Linked DNA regions of Homo sapiens: region 1 is linked to region 2. The links come from fine-mapping of genetic effects on gene expression. A gene starts in region 2. The other region holds a variant in brackets. All regions are shown on one strand. Distances are from middle to middle. Region 1 overlaps CEP85 (centrosomal protein 85). Region 2 holds the start of CEP85 (centrosomal protein 85).

What was found.
Region 1: its variant is fine-mapped to the expression of CEP85 in whole blood (INTERVAL, PIP above 0.99).

What each region holds. Positions count from the first base shown.
Region 1 is chr1:26,249,162-26,259,516 of GRCh38, forward strand. CEP85 (centrosomal protein 85) reads left to right here. Exons shown (of 14, transcript NM_001319944.2): 4 at 6,010-6,704; 5 at 8,436-8,569; 6 at 8,982-9,099. Among named protein-coding and RNA genes, the nearest start is that of CEP85, 20 kb to the left of the region's middle. RefSeq lists a silencer at 8,163-8,363. The variant T/TAA (reference allele first, on the strand shown) is at 5,266.
Region 2 is chr1:26,228,437-26,238,791 of GRCh38, forward strand. It overlaps CEP85 (centrosomal protein 85), which reads left to right and starts at 5,764. Exons shown (of 14, transcript NM_001319944.2): 1 at 5,764-5,874. It also overlaps the pseudogene ZPLD2P. RefSeq lists a silencer at 1,181-1,349 and enhancers at 5,963-6,112, 6,433-6,492, 6,583-6,632.

The DNA.
Region 1 (10,355 bases), 21 kb after region 2:
ACCTCCGCCTCCCGGGTTCAAGCGATTCTTCTGCCTCAGCCTTCTGAGTAGTTGGGATTACAGGCGTGTGCCACCACACCCAGCTAATTTTTGTATTTTTAGTAAAGACGGGGTTTCACCTTGTTGGCCAGACTGGTCTCGAAGTCCTGACCTCAGCTGATCCACTCACCTTGGCCTCTCAAAGTGTTGGGATTATAGGCGTGAGCCACTGCTCCTGGCCTCTAATCTTAACTCTTACACATTTTGTTCATGAATCTAGCTTGCGGTCTAGTTGACAAGAACCCCTGTGACTGGTATACAGTATAGTTCATTGTTGCATCTTTAAATTTAATAGGCATGCTTTTGATTCCACCCTTCTTCACTAAGGTGTTTTACCTTGAAAGATTCTCGAGGGACAGAGTAGAGGTGGGTACTGAAGAGTTCAGAATGCTTTCAGCTCTTTGCAAAAGACTGAAATAGTCACTGGTGTAATTCAGGCTACTGAATCACTTCAGGTGTAGACTGAAGTGACTGAGATTTGGTAATAGCTGAATCTACCCTTACTGTGAAAGGAAGTTTGCTCAAAAATGAGTTGTTTTTTAGGGTGGGGAGGGGTCATAAAATGTGGTTAAGTAGGGGAGAGATTTAGAACTATATTCTTAAAATGGCAAAACCCCAAAGTTTTTGGGAACTGTAGATTTCTGTAAATAAAAATCACATATCCCATGCATTGTATTTTTTAAAGAGATGGATCTCACTGTGTTGCCTACACTGGAGTGCAATGACTGTTCACACAGGTACCATCATAGTGTACTATAGCCATGAACTCGGTGGGGCTCAAGTAATCCTCCTGAGTTAGACTACTGAGTAGCTGGGCCTACAGAGATGCACCACCTGCCTGGTTCCCATACACTAAATTTTGAATGCCTTTGAAAATTGTAGAAGATAGAGGTCCCTTTGAAAATGAGTGTTGCTATTTCATTTCAAAATATTCTAAACCACAGACCAGACTTACGGTGTAACTCAGAGGTCCCCAACTCCTGGCCCGTGGACCAGTACCAGTCCATGGCATATTAGGAACCAGGCCACACAGCTGGAGGTGAGCAGCAGGCGAGCAAGCATTACTGCCTGAGCTTGCGCCTTCTGTCAGATCAGTGGTGACATTAGATTCTCATAGGAGCACGAACCCTATTGTGAACTGTGCATGTGAGGGATCTAGGTTGCTCAGTCCTTACGAGAATCTAATGCCTGATGATCTGAGGTGGAACAGTTTCATCCTGAAACCATCCCCCCAACCATCGTCTGTGGAAAAATTGTGTTCCACAAAACGATTCCCTGGTAACAAAAAGGTTGGGAACCGCTGGTGTAACTTTACATTTCATAGCACAGTTAGTCTGAATCAGGCAGTTTACTTAATATAAATAGATAAACCCAATAGATAAGTTAAAAATGTGGACAAAGACCTCACCTTAATTTTCTAATATGTCCATTTATCATCTATAAAAAATTAGAAAAGCCATATTCTTCTGGGTCAGTTGGTACTTTTCTTCTTGGCTTTGGTTTTGGCATTATTTTGGGGTTATCTTAGTGTATTTTCTGTTACTGTAAGAGAATACCTGAGACAGTGTAACTTATACAGAAAAGATGTTTATTTTGCCCAGGGTTCTGGAGAGTGAGAAGTCCAAAGGCATAGTGGCAGCATCTGGCGAAGGCTTTTGTGCTGTATCATAACATGGTGGAAAAGCAGAGACCACTAGAGTGAGCCAAGCTTGCCTTTTTTTTTTCTTTTTTCTTTTTTTTTTTTTTTTTTTTTTTTTTGAGACAGAGTCTTATTTCTGTCACTCAGGCTGGAGTGCAGTGGTGGGATCTTGGCTCACTGCAGCTTCCGCCTCCCATGTTCAAGTGATTTCTCCTGCCTCAGCCTCCCGAGTAGCTGGGATTACAGGCACCCGCCATCATGCCCAGCTAATTTTTGTATTTTTAGTAGAGATGGGGTTTCACCATGTTAGCCAGGCTGGCCTTGAACTCCTGACCTCAAATGATCCGCTTGCCTCTGCCTCCCAAAGTGCTAGGATTACAGGCATAAACCACCGTGCCCAACCCAAGCTTGGTTTTTTTTTTTTTTTTTGAGGTGGAGTTTAGCTCTTGTTGCCCAGGCTGGAGTGCAATGGTGCAATCTCGGCTCACTGCAACGTCTGCCTCCCGGTTTCAGGCGATTCTCCTGCCTCAGCCTCCTGAGAAGCTGGGACTACAGGCATGCGTCACCACGCCCAGCTAATCTTGTATTTTTAGTGGAGACAGGGTTTCTCCACGTTGATCAGGCTGGTCTCAAACTCCGGACCTCAGGTGATCCGCCCACCTCAGCCTCCCAAAGTGCTGGGATTACAGGCATGAGCCACCATGCCCGGCCCCAAGCTTGCTTTTATAACAACCCACTGCTTTGAGAACTAACTCACTTCTGCTAATCTATTATGAGGCTTCTACCCTCATGACCCAGTCACCTCTTAGAGGCCCCCACCTCTTAATACTGTTACATTGGCAATTAAGTTTCCAACACATGAACTTTTGGGGGACAGACACTTTCAAACCACAGCAGGGGGTGTGGGCTCAAAACTGAATTTGGTGAATCTAGAGAGAGTGGTGCTATGGATGGAGACTGGAAGGAGGTATTGCAAAGTTCATGGTAGCAACCCCTCATGTGCTACAACCTCACAGTCTTCTGTTTTGTAATTACACCGTGGGAGCAGTGACCCTTGGTAAGAACTGATAACTATGGTGCTGTTATGGAGGATTTAAAACATATTGCTTATGGTTAAGCACGGTGGCTCATCCCTGTAATCCCAGCACTTTGGGAGGCCGAGACAGGTGAATCACTTGAGGTTAGGAATTCAAGACCAGCCTGGCCAACATGGTGAAACCCCGTCTACTAAAAATACAAAAATTAGCCAGGCATGGTGGCGGGCTCCTGTAATCCCAGCTACTCGAGAGGCTGAGGCAGAAGAGTCGCTTGAACCCAGGAGGCAGAGGTTGCGGTGAGCCAAGATCGTGCCACTGCACTCCAGCCTGGACAACAGAGTGAGTGAGACCCCATCTCAAAAAAGAAAAAATTGGGCCGGGGGCAGTGGCTCACACCTGTAATCCCAGCACTTTGGGAGGCCGAGGCGGGCGGATCACCTGAGGTTGGGAGTTCAAGACCAGCCTGACCAGCATGGAGAAGCCCTGTCTCTACTAAAAATACAAAATTAGCCGGGCGTGGTGGAGCATGCCTTTAATCCCAGCTACTTGGGAGGCTGAGGCAGGAGAATCGCTTGAACCCAGGAGGAGGAGGTTGTGGTGAGCCAAGATCGCGCCATTGCACTCCAGCCTGGGCAACAAGAGTGAAATTCCGGCTCCAAAAAATAAAACAAAAAATTGTATTGCTTACTAGTCTTTGAAGTCTTTATCACTAGCAGTCTGCCTTAACCTTGTGTACTAGTCCTATATTTAAGTTGTGAGACATCAGAAACTGGGTCCTTTAACTGAGAAATTTCTTTCTTGGTCCTGAGAGACTAATGCATGTTATCAGAACTTATTCAGGTTTTTGTTTTGTTACGTGTGTGTGTGTTTTTTTAGTGTGGCCTTTTATATATCCCCAAGATCATCTTCAGTATAGCAAATTAGATACTATGCATGTAATATAAGGCTTGCACGTCTTTTTTTAAAGTATTTATTCCTCCTGTCTAACCGAAATGTTTTACCCTTTGATCAGCATCTCTCGATTCCCCCTGCTCCCAGCTTCTGGTAACCACAATTATTCTCTCTGTTTCTATGTGTCGAGGTTTTTTTTAGCTTCCACATATAAGTAAGAACGTGCAGTATTTGTCATTTTGTGCCTGGCTTATTTCTCTTAGTGTCCTCCAGTTTCATCCATGTTGTTGCAAGTGACACAATTGACATCTTTTATAAGGCTGGTATTCCGTTGTGTAATATACTGCATTTTCCTTATCTGTTCGTCTGTTGATTCTATAACTTGGCTATTGTGAATAATTACTCAGTAAACATGGGATTGTAGATATCTCTTGGACATACATATTTCATATCGTTTGGATATATACCCAGAAGTGGATTGCTGGATCATATGGTAACTATTTTTAGTTTTTTGAGGAGCTACATACTCCATTGTTTTCCACAGTGGCTGTGTTACATTCCCCCCAACTGTGTACTAGAGTTCCCTTTTCTCTGCATCCTCTCCAAACTTGTTATCTTTCATCTTTTTTTTTTTTTTTTTGAGATGGAGTCTCACTCTGTCGCCCAGGCTGGAGTGCAGTAGTGCGATCCTGGCTCATTGCAACCTCCACCTCCTGGGTTCAAGCGATCCTCCTGCCTCAGCCTCCCGAATAGCTGGGACTACAGGCGCGTGCCACCATACCTGGCTAATATTTTGTATTTTTAGTAGAGACAGGGTTTCACCGTGTTAGCCAGGATGGTTTCGATCTCCTGACCTCATGATCCCCCCTCCTCAGCCTCCCAAAGTGCTGGGGATTACAGGCATGAGCCACTGCGCCCGGCCTCATCTTTTTCATCATAGCCATTCTGACAGGTGTGAGGTGGCTTGCCCATATTTTTAAAGAGTTGCTTAAGGCCGGGCATGGTGGCTCACACCTGTAATCCTAGCACTTTGGGAGGCTGAGGCAGGTGGATCACTTGAGCCCATGAGTTCGAGACCAGTCTGGGCAACATGGCGAAACCCCATCTCTCCTAAAAATACAAAAACTGAGGTGGGAAGATCACCTGAGCCTGGGGAGGTCGAGGCTGCAGTGAACTGTGATCACGCCACTGTGCTCCAGCCTGGGTGACAGAGTGAGACCCCATTTCAAAAAAAAAAGTTGTTTAATGAGAAGGTCGTAGCTGATCTATACTTACATAATTCTGGGAACAATTATAGTATTTGTTGTTGTTATCTGAGTGTTCTCTGTGTTGGTTGCTGGGGAGAAAAAGAAACAAGTTGGTAGTCGCTCTTCTCCGTGGTAGATATGCTTGATTTGGGAACGAGTACTGAATATAGTTGAAAAGAGAAGAAATTGGTATTCCTTATTTCCTTATTCAGTTTTCTGCCTGCTGAAAGCAATAAGTATGTTACCTCACATTCCTCCCTTATTGTTTGCTTGCAGTAGTCCCCCTCAGAGTAGTACTTGAAAGTTGGAAATAGGTAGAAATGTGAACCTTGTATAGTAGGGCTAATCAAGGGTTGTCTCCCAAGACCAGGCAGGAGCCAAAGGAAACACAAATTCAGTCTGAAGGAAAAGT[T/TAA]AAAAAAAAAAAAACACAGTTGGGTACACACAAGGGGGCAAGTGAAAGGCAAAATATAAAATAGAGGATTTCAGTGTGTACCCAATTGAGAGTGCTCACTGTGCTAGAGTGAAACCTGAGAGTTACTAAGAATAACTTCACATATCCAGGCAGTCAGGTTTGGGGTATGGGAGAGAGAACAGAATCCTGCCTCAGATGCCATACTCCCTGTCCTGCATACTGAGCAAGACTGTCTAGTTCGCTTCATTCTTCAGATAGTTTGGACTCGTTGCTCACCTTCCTGGGGGAGCTTTTGGAGGTCGCAGAAGATTCTGGTGACTCTTGGAAAGGATATTTTTATTAGATTTGATTATAGCTGAGAGTTGTCCAGCTTCCAGAAGAGTAGGACCTAACTCATTTTCCTTAAGTAAGTAATTTGTTTTAAAGTTTAAATTTTTTAAAAAACTTTTTAAAAGTTTTTCAGCTTTGTCTGTTGACTGACAAGATTTTTTTTATTCCAGTACAAAGGACTAAGTTAAAAGTGAAGTCATTATTGCCTTTTGTTAGTTTACCTTGTGAATGGCATTTGAGATCCTGGAACATACATCTCCCAGTTTGGTTGCCGTTTCTTTCTGCCTGATACTTTTGATGATGGTGCTCTCTCTGCTTGGTCTCAGGACAGGCCGAGAGCTTCTGGCATAGCATTCAAACTCAAGAAAGCTTGCTACTTCAATTTTTACTTATGGAAGACTATTCTCTCCCCAGATTTTTGCAGCTCAAGTGGCAGTCCTCCTTTCCAGCCCATCAAAAGCCACGTAACCATTCCAACAGCCCATGTGATGCCTTCTACTTTAGGGACCTCTCCTGCCAAGCCAAATTCTACACCTGTTGGACCCTCTTCCTCTAAACTCCCTTTGTCAGGGTTGGCTGAAAGTGTGGGAATGACAAGAAATGGAGACCTCGGTGCAATGAAACATTCTCCAGGCCTATCTAGAGATCTCATGTATTTCTCTGGTGCTACTGGAGAAAATGGAATTGAGCAGTCCTGGTTTCCAGCAGTGGGCCATGAAAGACAAGAAGAGGCGAGGAAGTTTGATATTCCTAGCATGGAATCTACCCTCAATCAGTCGGCAATGATGGAGACACTTTATTCAGATCCTCACCACCGAGTCCGCTTCCACAACCCAAGAACCAGCACAAGTAAGGAGTTGTACAGAGTGTTGCCTGAGGCCAAGAAGGCACCGGGCAGCGGGGCAGTGTTTGAGCGGAATGGACCACATTCTAATAGCAGTGGGGTCCTCCCTTTGGGACTCCAGCCTGCTCCCGGGCTCTCCAAGCCTCTGCCCTCTCAGGTGTGGCAGCCGAGTCCTGACACTTGGCATCCCCGAGAGCAATCTTGTGAACTCAGCACTTGTCGGCAGCAGCTGGAATTGATTCGTTTACAGATGGAGCAAATGCAGGTAGAGGTCTATCTTTCCTTGGATTTTCTAGGTTCTGTACAGTTCTTAGAATTGTAATAGCTTTTGTCCTTTGAATTTTGGCTTAAAGAAAATAGCTGTAAAAAGAAGGAAGATGTTTGTAGACAGGAAATACAGGCTTGTGAGCTGTTGGCCATTGAATCTGTTTGGTAGTCAAATTAAGCACCAGATAGGGTCTCCAAAATAGCAAAAGGTTACAAAGGAAAACCTAAAAACGTATTTATACGTCACTAGGCTAAGTACTTTCACATACAGCATTTTATTTAATCTTCATAGTGTACTAACGAGGTAGATGTAGAAACTTACCAGGTTCTTAGACTACATAATCTGTACGGGGTCATAGAGTTGGTAATTGGCAGAGCTGGGGTTTAAAAACCATCTTTGAGGCCAGGTGGCTCACGCCTATAATCCCAGCATTTTGGGAGGCCGAGGCGGGCAGGAGTTCGAGACCAGCCTGGCCAGCAGAGTGAAACCCTGCCTCTACTAAAAATATAAAAATTAGCCAGGTGTGGTGGCATGCGCCTGTAGTCCCAACTACTCAGGAGGCTGTGGCAGGAGAATTGCTTGAACCTGGGAGGCGGAGGTTGCAGTGAGCCGAGACTGCGCCATTGCACTCCAGTCTGGATGACAGAGCGAGGCTCTGTCTCAAAAAATAAATAAATAAATGTGAAAACCTTCTTTGAGCCCCTGTGTTCTCTCTACCACTTTTGTATTTTCTTTTTTTTTTTTTTTTGAGATGGAGTCTTGCTCTGTTGCCCAGGCTGGAGTGCAGTGGCGTGTTCTCGGCTCACTGCAACCTCTACCTCCCAAGGTCAAGTGATTCTCCTGCCTTAACCTCCCGAGTAGCTGGGACTACAGGTGCGTGCCAACACGCCCAGCTCTTTTTTGTATTATTAGTAGAAACAGGGTTTCACCATGCTGGCCCGCCTAGTCTCGAACTCCTGACCTTGTGATCCGCCCGCCTCAGCCTCCGAAAGTGCTGGGATTACAGGGGTGAGTTACTGTGCCTGCCTGTATTTTCCTTTTTTTGTTTTGTTTTGTTTTGGTGTGTGTGTGTGTGTGTGTGTGTGTGTTTTGGAGACAGAGTCTTGCTCTGTCGCCCAGTGGCATGATCTTGGCTCACTGCAACCTCCACCTCTCAGGTTCAAGCAATTTTCCTGCCTCAGCCTCCTGAGTAGCTAGGACCACAGGCGCATGCCACCACGCCTGGCTAATTTTTTGTATTTTTTATTAGAGACGGGTTTTCACCCTGTTGCCCATGCTGGTTTAGAACTCCTGAGCTTGGGCAATCTGCCCACCTTGGCCTTCCAAAGTGCTGGGATTACAGGCGTGAGCCACCGCACCCAGCATATTTTCTTTTAAAAAATCCTTGTGCTGCTGAAGAGTGGGAAGGAAGGGAGCAGACATATTCCCCTTCCTTGGTTGGTGAGGACATCCTAGCTCCTGGTTTGCCTCTGTTGCTAGATAATAAAAGATAACTGACCTTTTCTTAGAAACTAGAGCCTTTTTGAACAGGGAGTGTTCAGTTGGCAGAAGCCTTCCTGGCAGGTTCTTTCCAGTCATGCCTCAGAGCTAAAATTATTTCATAAACATTGGGCCTCATCAGGCTGAGCCAAGTTGGGCTTTGACTACAGACCCAGCTGATTACTGCTCAGGTGTTTTCAGGCGTGTATGGGTCAAGATCAAGCTCATCTGGGCCTACTTGCCTTTCAGCTTCAGAATGGAGCCATCTGCCACCATCCTGCTGCTTTTGGTCCTTCACTGCCCATCTTAGAGCCAGCACAGTGGATCAGCATCTTGAACAGTAATGAACACCTTCTGAAGGAAAAAGAGCTTCTCATTGACAAGTAAGAGGGCAAGGGGTACCACAGAGCCAGACTACTCTCCCAGGCCCCATTGAAGACACCTAATGGAGTCTTCCCAAGGGCAAAGCATTCCTCCTCTGTTTAGGTCCATGTCTTGCCTCATGGTGGAGGTAGTTTGATAAGCAGCCTAGTCGTGTATATATAACTAATATAATAGACCAGTTATGTATTTCTTTAGGGGCTCTAGGGAGTGCCTAAGGGGGTAGCCAGTTCATTGCTTCTGATCTTTTCCTCATTTCCCCAGTTATCTTTCTCATTTGTTCTTCTTCCTTCAGAAAATAGTGATATCCAGAATCTAAGATCTTGCTTACGTAATAGGGATTGTACTTAGTAGGGGCTCATATTGTGAGGGGTTAGCATCAGGACCCTGACCTGATTCTACCGGCTTGTGCAGGCAGAGGAAACACATCTCTCAGCTGGAGCAGAAAGTGCGAGAGAGCGAACTGCAAGTCCACAGTGCCCTCTTGGGCCGCCCTGCCCCCTTTGGTGATGTCTGCTTGCTGAGGCTACAGGTAAGTATTGGCCATCAGGATGGCATTCTGTTTGTCATAACTCGGTGTCTTCCCTATGCTTGACACCATTAGGTATCCAGGAGATAGAAAAGAGCTCAAGTGATGTAAGTGTCCCTGCCCTCAAAGAGGGCATACTAATTATAAAGCACCCTTTATCATGCCCTTGTGGGAGCAGAAAAGGCTAAGAACCAGGTGAAAGTCCAGATGCCTGGGTGTGAAGACATACTTGGAAGAAAGGTAGATAGTAAGGTCCTAGAGTTGGGTGATGTTATGAGAAGTCTTAATTTTCTAGCCCTAGCCAAAGGAGAGAGAGGCAAAGGTAATGCAGGATTTAGAGCTATTCTCTCTCTTTTTTTTTTTTTCCCCTGCTCTGTCACCCAGGCTGGAGTGCAGTGGCACAATCTCGGCTCACTGCAACCTCCGCCTCCCGGGTTCAAGCAATTCTCCTGCCTCAGCCTCCCAAGTAGCTAGGATTACAGGTGCCTGCCACCATGCCTGGCTAATTTTTATATTTTTAGTAGAGACGGGGTTTCATCATGTTGGCCAGGCTGGTCTCGAACTCCTGACCTCGTGATCCGCCTACCTCGGCTTCCCAAAGTGCTGGGATTACAGGCGGGAGTCACTGCACCCGGGCATTCTCATTTTTATCCTCCATATCTAGGAGCAGCTGAAGAAGATAATATTCTCACTGAGATCAATGGTTGTGGGGCTTTAGAGTTTGAAAAGAAGCCTGCTTTGTTGACCAAGCTTCTGCAATTTGGGCATTTGAATGTTGGATATTTGACAGGTTATAGCACTGGCTTTGCTACCTAATTAAGGCAGTATCCTGTCTCATAGAATCAGAATGTTAAGAGTGGGAAGTGCCTTAAATAAAACTAGTTAATTCTTCGAATTTACTGATTAAAGAATTGAAACCTGAGAAAGAGGAAGACCTTGCCTGAGATCATATAGAGAATGAGTGGAGGGAAGCCAGGCTTTGAGCCCAGGTCTTCTGATGTCTTGTCCTAGGTTCCTTCCAGTATACAATGGCTTAGGTATTGCTTTAAGGCAGTGGTTCTCAAATGTGAGTGTGCATCAGAATCCCTGGAGCGCTTGTTAAAATACAGATTATTGGGACCCATCCCTACAGTTTCTGGTTTGGTGGGCCTAGGAGTTAGGCTTAAGACATTGCATTGCTAACAAATTACATCATCAGGTAATGCTGATGCTGTTAACCCTAAGACCTAGTTGAGAACCACTTCTTAAAGAGATTCTTG
Region 2 (10,355 bases):
CCCTTAATTATTTCTGACCTCATTAGCTCCCCCTTCCTAGTAGAGGGTGGATATGGCAGCAGTGTTTGTGTGAATATCATTCCTTTATTCAAAAACAGGTTGGAATCTGCTATGCACTTGTTAACTGTATTAGGCCTGGGGGATTCAACAGTACAAAAGACAGAGTCTTTGACCTTACAGAGAAAACAGTTGAGTTTGGGGAGTAGGTAGTGAGGACCAGGAAGCAAGACAGGGTTTATAAGTTGGCAGAGGTGGGACCTACCCATAAGGTAGAATTTCACAAAAACACAGGAAGGCCCTGTGCCTTCTTTTGATGTTTCATTTTTGAAATACAATTTTTTGTTAATATCCATGATTATTTTAGAAATTAATTTCCTGGGGGAAAACATGAGTACAAGCAACACAATAAAAGTTAAATTTGGGCTGGGCACAGTGGCTCATGCCTGTAATCCCAGTACTTTGGGAGGCCAAGGTGGGTGAATCACGAGGTCAGGAGTTCAAGACCAGCCTGGCCAGCATGGTGAAACCCCGTCTCTACTAAAAATACAAAAATTAGCCAGCCAGGCATGGTGGCACGGGCCTGTAATCCCAGCTACGCGGGAGGCTGAGGCAAGAGGATTGCTTGAACCGGGAGGCAGAGGTTGCAGTGAGCCGAGATCATGCTACTGCACTCCAGCTTGGGTGACAGGGCGAGACTCTGTCTCAAAAAAAAAAAAGTTAAATTTGGCCAGGCACAGTGGCTCACACCTGTAATCCCAACACTTTGGGAGGCCAAGGTGTGCCAGATAGCTTGAGCCCCAGAGTTTGAGAGCAGTCTGGGCAACATAGTGAGACCTTCTTGAGACCTTCTTCTCTACAAAAAATTTAAAAATTAGCCAGGAACCTGTAGTTCCAGCTACTCGGGAGGCTGAGGTGGGAGAATCACCTGAGCCCAGGAGGTCAAGGCTGCAGTGAGCTGTGTTCCTGCCACTGTACTCCAGCCTGGGTGACAGTAAGACCTTGTAAAAAAAAAAAAAAAAAGCTAAATTTAATTTAAATTTAACAGTCTTAATATTTCATTTGCAGGTTGGCCGGGCACGGTGGCTCACACCTGTAATCCCAGCACTTTGGGAGGCCGAGGCGGGCGGATCATGAAGTCAGGAGATCGAGACCATCCTAGCTAACACGGTGAAACCCCGTCTCTACTAAAAACACAAAAAATTTGCCGGGCGTGGTGGCGGGAGCCTGTAGTCTCAGTTACTCAGGAGGCTGAGACAGGAGAATGGCATGAACCCGGGAGGCAGAGGTTGCAGTGAGCCGAGATCGCGCCACTGCACTCCAGCCTGGGTGACAGAGCGAGACTCCATCTCAAAAAAAATAAATAAATAAAAATAAAAAAAATAAAAAATAAAAAATTCATTTGCAGGAACATTTTGTTGTCTTTAATGCCTTAACAGCTCCTGAAAAAAATCATGTCAAATGATCAATCCATGTTATTTTTTCATGCACATCAAAGTCACACATTTATTAAATCAGCAATAAATTACATTTCATTGTGAATTCATATTGACTTTATACGTCTGTAGTAGACTTTAAACAGTCCTGCTATCAAAGGCATTAGCCCTTGCCGTTATTTAAAATGTATCCTGGCCAGGCACTGTGGCTCACGCTTGTAATCCCCACATTTTGGGATGTTGGGGTGGGCGGATCACCTGAGGTTAGGCATGCAAGCCCAGCCTGGCCATAATAGTGAAATCCTGTCTCTACTAAAAATACAAAAATTAGCTGGGTGTGGTGGCAGGTGCCTGTAATCCCAGCTACTCGGGAGGATGAGGCAGGAGAATTGCTTGAACCCAAGAGGTGGAAGTTTGCAGTAAGCCGAGATTGTGCCATTGCACTCCCGCCTGGGTGGCAGAGCAAGACTCTGTCTCAAAAATAAATAGATAAAATATATCCTGAGGGAAGAAGGGAAGTAGAAAAAATATATACATATATATCTTGAAGGATAAGGACAAAATATTGACTCCGCTTAAATATCTCAAAAAGAAAATAAATGAAATAAAATTAAGTAAACAAGGAAGCTATTGCATTTAAACTAAATTAGTTGACCATGTTAAAGAAGCCTCAGTGCTGTGTAACAATAGATGCTTATAAAATAATCCACCAGACCACACAGTGCATATGAAAGTGATAACTCTAATTATATGATTGTAACTAAGTTGCAATTTTTTTTTTATACTGAGGTGGGTCACATCTGGACTAACCCTGTCCCTTTTCAGTCATTAAGTCAGTGTACTTGATATATTTTATTAAAATATTCAGTGATATGATTTCGCTGTGTCCCTACCCAAATCTCATCTTGTTCCCATAATCTCCATGTGTCATAGGAGGGAACTGAAGGGAGGTAATTTAATCATGGGGGCGGTTGCCCTCATGCTGGTCTCATGAAAGTGACTTCTCACAAGATCTGATGGTTTTATAAAGGGCTTTTCCCCTTTTTGCTGGGCACTTCTCCTTGCTGTCACCATGTGAAGAAGGATGTGTTTGCTTCCCCTTCTGCCATGATTGTAAGTTTCCTGAGGCCTCCCCAGCCCTGTGGAACTGTGAGTCAATTAAACCTCTTCCCTTTATAAATTACCTAGTCTCAGGTATGTCTTACCCAGTGAACATTAGTCTGTTCTCACCGTGAGAACAGACTAATACATCCAGCTAGTCTTTTAAAAATAATAATGTAACTGACAATTTAAGAATATCTTATATTGGCCAGGCGCTCACACCGGTAATCCCAACACTTTGGGAGGCCAAGGTGGGTGGATCACAAGGTCAGGAATTTGAGACCAGACTGGCCAACATGGTGAAACCCCGTCTCTATTAAAAATACAAAAATTAGTCAGGCATGGTGGCGTGCGCCTGTAGTCCCAGCTAATCAGGAGGCTGAGGCAGAAGAATCGCTTGAACCCGGGAGGCAGAGGTTGCAGTGAGCCGAGATCGCTCCACTGCACTCCAGCCTGGGCGACAAAGCAAGACTCCATCTCAGAAAAAAACAAAGAATATATCTAAAGAGGTTGGTCATGAATATTCTCTGAAACTAGGACCAAAAGTCTCTGTTAAAATATAAATGAGCTGAGAGTGGTGGCACATGCTGGTAGTCCCAGCTACTCTGGAGGTTGAACGGGAGGATAGCTTGAGCCCAGGAGTTTGAGCCCAGCCTGGGCAACATAAAGAGACTCCTTCTCAAATGCATGTGTGTCTGTGTGTGTGTGTGTGTGTGTGTGTGTGTGTTCCTCCTTTGAAACAATTTTCCAGTCTGATTCTTCAAGCTCATATTAACGCAAATGGACTTAATGGTTCCTTTTCCTGGGGACTAAGTTTGGGGAGGAAGGCAGGACTGATTCCTTACCCTTCAAACTAAACCCTGGTCACAGGCTGACCAGTGCCTCCAACCCAGACCAAGCCCTGACCCTAGCCTCAGACTGTGCAATAACCCTGACTAGCATATATGTATATATATACATATGACAAGTCATTCACATTTGAAAATTGGCAGTAGGGCCGGCCACGGTGGCTCACGCCTGTAATCCCAGGATTTTGGGAGGCCAAGGCGGGCAGATCACCTGAGGTCAGGAGTTCGAGACCAGCCTGGCCAACATGGTGCAACCCCGTCTCTACTAAAAATACAAAAATTAGCCGGGTGTAGTGGTGGGTGCCTATAGTCCCAGCTACTCAGGAGGCTGAGACAGGAGAATTGCTTGAACCTGGGAGGCAGAGGTTGCAGTGAGCTGAGATCGTGCCACTGCACTCCAGCCTGGGTGACAGAGCAAGACTCTGTCTCAAAACAAAACAAAAAAGAAAATTGACAGTAGATAATGGAATTACTTTTAAACTATAGATATCTATTACAAAGAACTGTACAAATGTACTGTTTGCTATTTGTAAATTTAAATCTCAACACTTCCACTATGTTTCCAGTCGGATTTCTCTTCTATCCTCTGTATCAGCAATTCACATCTTCCTAATTCTTCTCAGTCCTCTAGATGCCCCTGTTCCCTCCCTCCTCACATATGCCTTTCACAAAAGAAATGGAAGCCTTTCAATGTTTTCTGACTCTTCTTTCTCTTTCTTTCTTTCTTTTTCTTTCTTTCCTTCTTTCCTTCCGTCTTTCCTTCTTTCCTTCTTTCTTTCAGAACCTCGCTCTGTTGCCCAGGCTGGAGTGCAGTGATCTTGGCTCACTGCAACCTCTCCTCCTGAGTTCAAGTGATTCTCTTGCCCCAGCTTCCCCAGTAGCTGGGATTACAGGTGCCCACCACCACACCTGGCTAATTTTGTATTTTTAGTAGGGTTTTATCATGTTGGCCACAGGCTGGTCTCAAACTCCCGACCTCAAGTGATCCACCTGCCTGGGCCTCCCAAAGTGCTGGGATTACAGGCGTGAGCCACCGTGCCCGGCCAGGACTAACACTTTCTAGCTTTCTACCCTTCAGTCCATAAATTTATTCATTTAGACACCCTGTCTTAACATTTTTTTTTTTAGCCTTTACGTTAACAGAGGCTTCTGGTCCTAATTTCATATCATACCCAGGTTCATTTTCATTATCCATTAAATCTGCTATTTTATGTCTTCTATATTCTTATCTTAAAATACTAAAAGAGAGGACAAAGGATACAACCTTGGGGCACATCCCTAGGGTCTTTCCTCTAGAGTGACTTTTATTCAGTAATGAACTCACTTTGTCTGGCTCTTAAAGCTAAGAAATTATACAACTTTTTTTTTCCATACAACTTTTTTTTGGAGTGCAGGGGCACGATCTCGGCTCACTGCAACCTCCGGCTCCCTGGTTCAGGCGATTCTGCTGCCTCAGCCTCCCGAGTAGCTGGGATTACAGGTATGCGCCACCACACCCAGCTAATTTTTGTATTTTTAGTAGAGACGGGGTTTCACCATATTGGCCAGGATGGTCTCGATCTCCTGACCTCGTGATCCGCCCTCCTCTGTCTCCCAAAGTGCTGGGATTACAGGCATGAGCCACCGCGCCCGGCCTCCTATACAATTTTTTAGTATCTCTCCCTGCCAAGTCAGGTTTCTAGATACCCAGAATTTCACTATCTGAGATTCATTCCTTTGGCTGATGGTTCTGTTCTCCTTTCAAACAATTTTCCTGTCTGACTCTTCAAGCGCATATTAATGCAAATGGACTTAACAGTTCCTTTTCCTGTGGACCAAGTTTGGGGAGGGAGGCAGGACTGATCCTTTACCCTTCAACCTGAACCTTGGTCACAGGCTGACCACTGCGTCCAACCCAGACCAAGCCTTGACCCTGACTAGTCAGTGACCCAGGCCACACCCTAACTCCTGGTCACAACCTGAACCCCTGCTTCAGGTGTGAGAACTGATAGACCGGCGTTGGAATGGAAGGAGGGTGAGGCAAGCTGAGTGGGATTCTCGTGTCCCCAGCCCCGCCCGCGGGCCGCCAGCTTCCCAACCTGCACAGGCCCAGCAGGGCCCCTCCAGGTCTAGGTGAGCAGAGCTCCACCTACAGGTAAAACGCGGCAAGGGGCAGAGAAGGAGCCAAGTGGCGACGTGGTCATGCGCAGAAAGATCCGTCCGGCTCTCTGAGCAGAGGGTAGCGTGTGGGGGCGGGATACCGACGCGGCTCGGCTGCCGATTGGTCAGAAGAGGATAGAAAGGGGCGGGAAGCCGGCGCGGCTCGACTCCCGATTGGCCAGAGGCGGCAGAACGGGGTGGGGCCAAACGACGCGCGTTCTGTGGCGCGCGGCCTGGCGGGCGTGCAACGGCCGTTAGAGGAGCTGAGGGAGGGAACCACCGCTCACCGCAGACGTGGTGGCTGCAGTCAGTCTTCCCGAGTGAGGGATTTCGCCGCCCGCTTTCAGGCCCGTGTAAGTTTTCCTCCTTCGGGAGCCTCAGTCCTAGTGGCCGACCTTGCCTCTCCTCCCATAGCTCCGGCGAAGCCTCAGACGCTCGCGACCTGCCACCGTGAGGGGCCGGGGAGAGCGAAGCGCATGCGCCTCGGCTCCGAAGCCAGTGCCCCGGCATACGCCCTCTCGCGTCCCATTCCCCTCGCTTCCCCCGTTGCCTTGCTTTGCCGTCCGTGGTTCACCCCACGGCAGTCACTTTACCTGCGTGCCAGGCCCTGTGCCGATAGCCAGGGACACAGCGAGCGGCGCATTCCTTGCCCTTGCGGAGCGCACAGCCCTGGGAGTCGACGTTAAGCGGGGTAATCCCTCGGCGCGCAGTGAGGGTAGAGTGGAGAAATCTTACAAAGAGCGCAAAACAGAAGGCGCGGATCTAGTCGGAGAGGTCAGGGAGCCCTCCCCGAGGAGGAGAAGTTTGAGCCGAGATTGGAAGGCTGTGTAGAGAATTAAGGTTGTGGGACGGAAAGCACTTGGCGGGGCCTTACCCCGGTACTTCTCGGCCGGGGCGATTTTGCTTCCCTGGGGACATTGGTCGATGTCTGGAAACACTTTTGATAGTCACAGCTCCAGGGCTTGCTACTGGCATCTAGTGCGAAGAAGCCAGGGATGCTGTTACACAGCCTACTGTGTGTAGGACGCCCCCAACAACAAAGAAAAATCCCCCAAAATGTCAGTAGGGCGGAAGGTGAGGAAGCTTCCTTCAGCGAGAAGGAGCTGGTGCTTTGGTTGAACTGAAAGTTAGTGTGTTCAGGTTTATTTGTTCAACAGTATATTCAACGCTTACTTCACCTCAGTTAATGAGAGCGATCCTTTACACCAGTACATTCCCAACACGTGGCTCAGAGCCAGGCGCATAGTAGGCACGCAGTAAATTTCGGTTGATGAATTGAACACTGGGATAAGTAGGGGGCGGTGGTGATACAAGGACGATGAAGCTAGCCAGGCCTCATTTATTTGCCCTCAAACCTTGTCTGCTTTATAGTGATCTGGTGGTTTTGTATGTCTCACGACTTTTCTTTGTAAAGGCAACTTCTTGTCAAGGATTTGGCTTCTCTTTCACAAGGTTTAATGAATGATCAAGGCGGTGAAAATAGTGTAATGGTGTGAGATCCTTCGTGTGTCTGTGTCAGCTGTCTGTGTATCCCTTCAAATCCTCTCTTGTCTTGATGTGGTTCTCTTAACAGCTGCCAAGCATGATGTTCCACACTTAGATTGTAATTCTTTTTTTTTTTTTTTTTTTTGTGAGACGGAGTTTTGCTCTTGTTGCCCAGGCTGGAGTGCCGTGGCGCGATGTCGGCTCACCGCAACCTCCGCCTCCCAGGTTCAAGCGATTCTCCTGCCTCAGCCTCCCGAGTAGCTGGGATTACAGGCATGCGCCACCATGCACGGATAATTTTGTATTTTTAGTAGAGACGGCGTTTCTCCATGTTGGTCAGGCTGGTCTCAAACTCCCGACCTCAGGTGATCCGCCCGCCTCGGCCTCCCAAAATGCTGGGATTACAGGCGTGAGCCACCACGCCCGGCCACACTTAGATTGTAATTCTTATAGGGGAAAAATACTTACGGCAGTCAAAATCTAATTCTTGGGTAGCAACTTGAGAAATAAAGCCTAGGTGATGACCAAGGACAAAGTGAAGAAATTTTATGAGCTTTTACTGCTCATATAATTGAGGCTTGCAGCTCTAGCTGTCTGAGGCAGAAACTCCAACTTGTGGTGCCATGCTTGATCTCTTTTTTTGTGTTTTGTCACATGTAGAATGCTGACTAGACTACTGTAGCGTTAGAGTACAGTCCTGGCTTTGAAGCCTCTTCCTAGCCATATGACCTTCACTACTGTAAACCTTTATTTTCTCATCCATAAAATGAGGATAATAGTAACTGCCTCATAGGGTTGATGTGAACATGAAACATGAGACATGATACTTAAAAAGTGTTGAGCACAGTGTTTGATAGGTAGTAAGTGCAGAATGCATGTTAAATTTGTTGAATGAGTGACTGTTTCTGTAGTTTAAAGGGCTTTGAAGATGGAAACCAATCCTGTTGGGTGCTTTTTTTTTTTTTCCCCTCTGTCTGCCTCCATTCACTCCCTTTCTAAGCTTTATAACTGGTGTGTTACTTCTTGTACATTCACTTCTCTCATTTTTATCCCAGGAAATTTCTGTCTCCTTCAGTTGTCCCAAAAATTTCCACCAGTAGCTCATCTAATTCTTAAGTCAAGAATGATTTATTTTGTATTGTTTTACTCCTTACGGGGTTTCTTTCTTTCTGTTTTTCTTTTTTGAGATATTTGTTGTCAATGAGGGTCAGACTCTGAAATATTTGAAGGGATTTATTCTGAGCCAAATATGGGTGACCAGTGGCCCCTGACACAGCCCTCAGGTGATCCTGATAACGTGTGCCCTGGTTTTAAACATTTTAGGTAGACATGAGACATCAGTCAAATACATGTAAGATTTACATTGATCTGGAAGGGTAAGACAACTCTTAGTGGGTGGGGGCTTCCAGGTCATAGGTAGATTTCAAAATTTTCTGATTGGCAGTTGGTTGAAAGTTGTTATCAATAGAAAGGAATGTCTGGGTTAAGGTATCCTGGGGATCAACATTTTATTGTACAGATGAAGCCTCCAAATAGTAGGCTTTAGAGAGAATAGATTATAAATGTTTCTTACAGACATCTGTGTTAATGTTAATGCTTTTCCTAAATTCCAGAAGGGAGGAGGGTATAATGAGGGGTGTAGGACTCCACCACCACTACCACCATCATGGCCTTAACAGGTTTTTCAGCTTAACTTTGGAATGCCATTGGCCAAGGGGAGGGATCCATTCAGGTGGTTGGGGATGTCTTAGAATTTTTTTTTTGGCTTATATCACATAACATAAAATTTAATTTTATGTGTGTGCAATTCAGAGGTTTTTAATATATTGGCAAGGTTGTGCAGTCAGTCACCACTATCTAATCTCAGAACATTTTGATCACCCTGAAAAGAAACCCGGTATCCATTAGCAGTCCCTTCCTATTCTCCTACCCTCCCTCCTCTCAGTCCTTTGCAATCACTAATCTGTGTCTCTATGGATTTGCCTATTCTGACATTTCATATAAATAGGATCAAGCCTTTTGTTTGGCTTCTTTGACTTTGCATGTCTTCAGTGTTCATCCATGTTGTCACATGTATCAGTACTTCCTTTTATTGCTGAATAATACTCTGTTTTTTGGATATACCACATTTTATGTATCCATTCATTAGCTCATGGACGTTTGTGTTGTTTCCACTTTTTGGCTATTGTAAATAATGCTGCTACGAACATTCTTATTGAAGCTTTTGTGTAAACCTGTGTTTTCATTTCTCTTGGGTGTATACTTCAGTGTGGAATTGCTGAGTCATAGGGTAACTCGGAGTTCTCCTTCTGTCACCGTATTTTCAACTTGTCTGAATTTAGAAACACCTTAGAATCCAGTGCGCCTACCATTTTGTTATCCTTTAAAGAAAGGAGTGAAGAAAAGGATTTTGATATTGACAAGAAAGGAAATCACTAGTAAGGAGGTAATCTAATCATTCTATGTCATCATTTAACTCACTGAATCATACTTGCCATAAACTAAAGCTTTTATTACTGAACAAAGCTTCCCTCACCCAGTATGTGAAGAACTGGAATTGTGGAGGATGATACCCTTTCTATTGTAGATGCAGTGAATTAATAAGGGTTTGGGTTGTTATGTACTTTAGTGACCTCTATAGTATTCTCTTAGTAACAAGAGAATACTATAGAGGTCACTAAAGTACATTAGAGAAATAGTACCATATAGTCTTTTTTCTCCAGAGTGATAGAATTATGTTCTGTGAATTGTCCCAAACTCTTTTTTTTTTTTTTTTGAGACGGAGTCTTGCTCTGTCGCCCAGGCTGGAGTGCAATGGCGCGATCTTGGCTCACTGCAGCCTCCGCCTCCATGGTCCAAGCGATTCTCCTGCCTCAGCCTCCCAAGTAGCTGGGATTACAGGCGCCTGCCACCATGCCTGGCTAATTTTTGTATTTTTAGTAGAGACGGGGTTTCACCATGTTGGCTGGTCTCGAACTCCTGACCTCAGGTGATCCGCCTGCCTCGGCCTCCCAAAGTGCTGGGATTACAGGCGTGAGCCACTGAGCCCGGCCGAATTGTCCCAAACTCTTTTGGGGCTTTTATAAATTTAGAGTTTCTGAGTTGATACTCCTTGATCTTCCATGGGCTGTACAGTGCTACTTTTGTTGATGTAAATTGCCAAGTAATAACAGCACTTAGTATGTGTCAGGAACTGTTGTAAGTTAATTATAAGTGAATTAACATGAATTAGGTTGTGTTGTTATCCTCATTTTTATATGAAGAAAATGAGGAACAGAGATACTAAGAAATTTGCCCAAGGTTACACAGCTAATAAATTGATAACTTAATGTTTAGTGGGTTCAAGTGT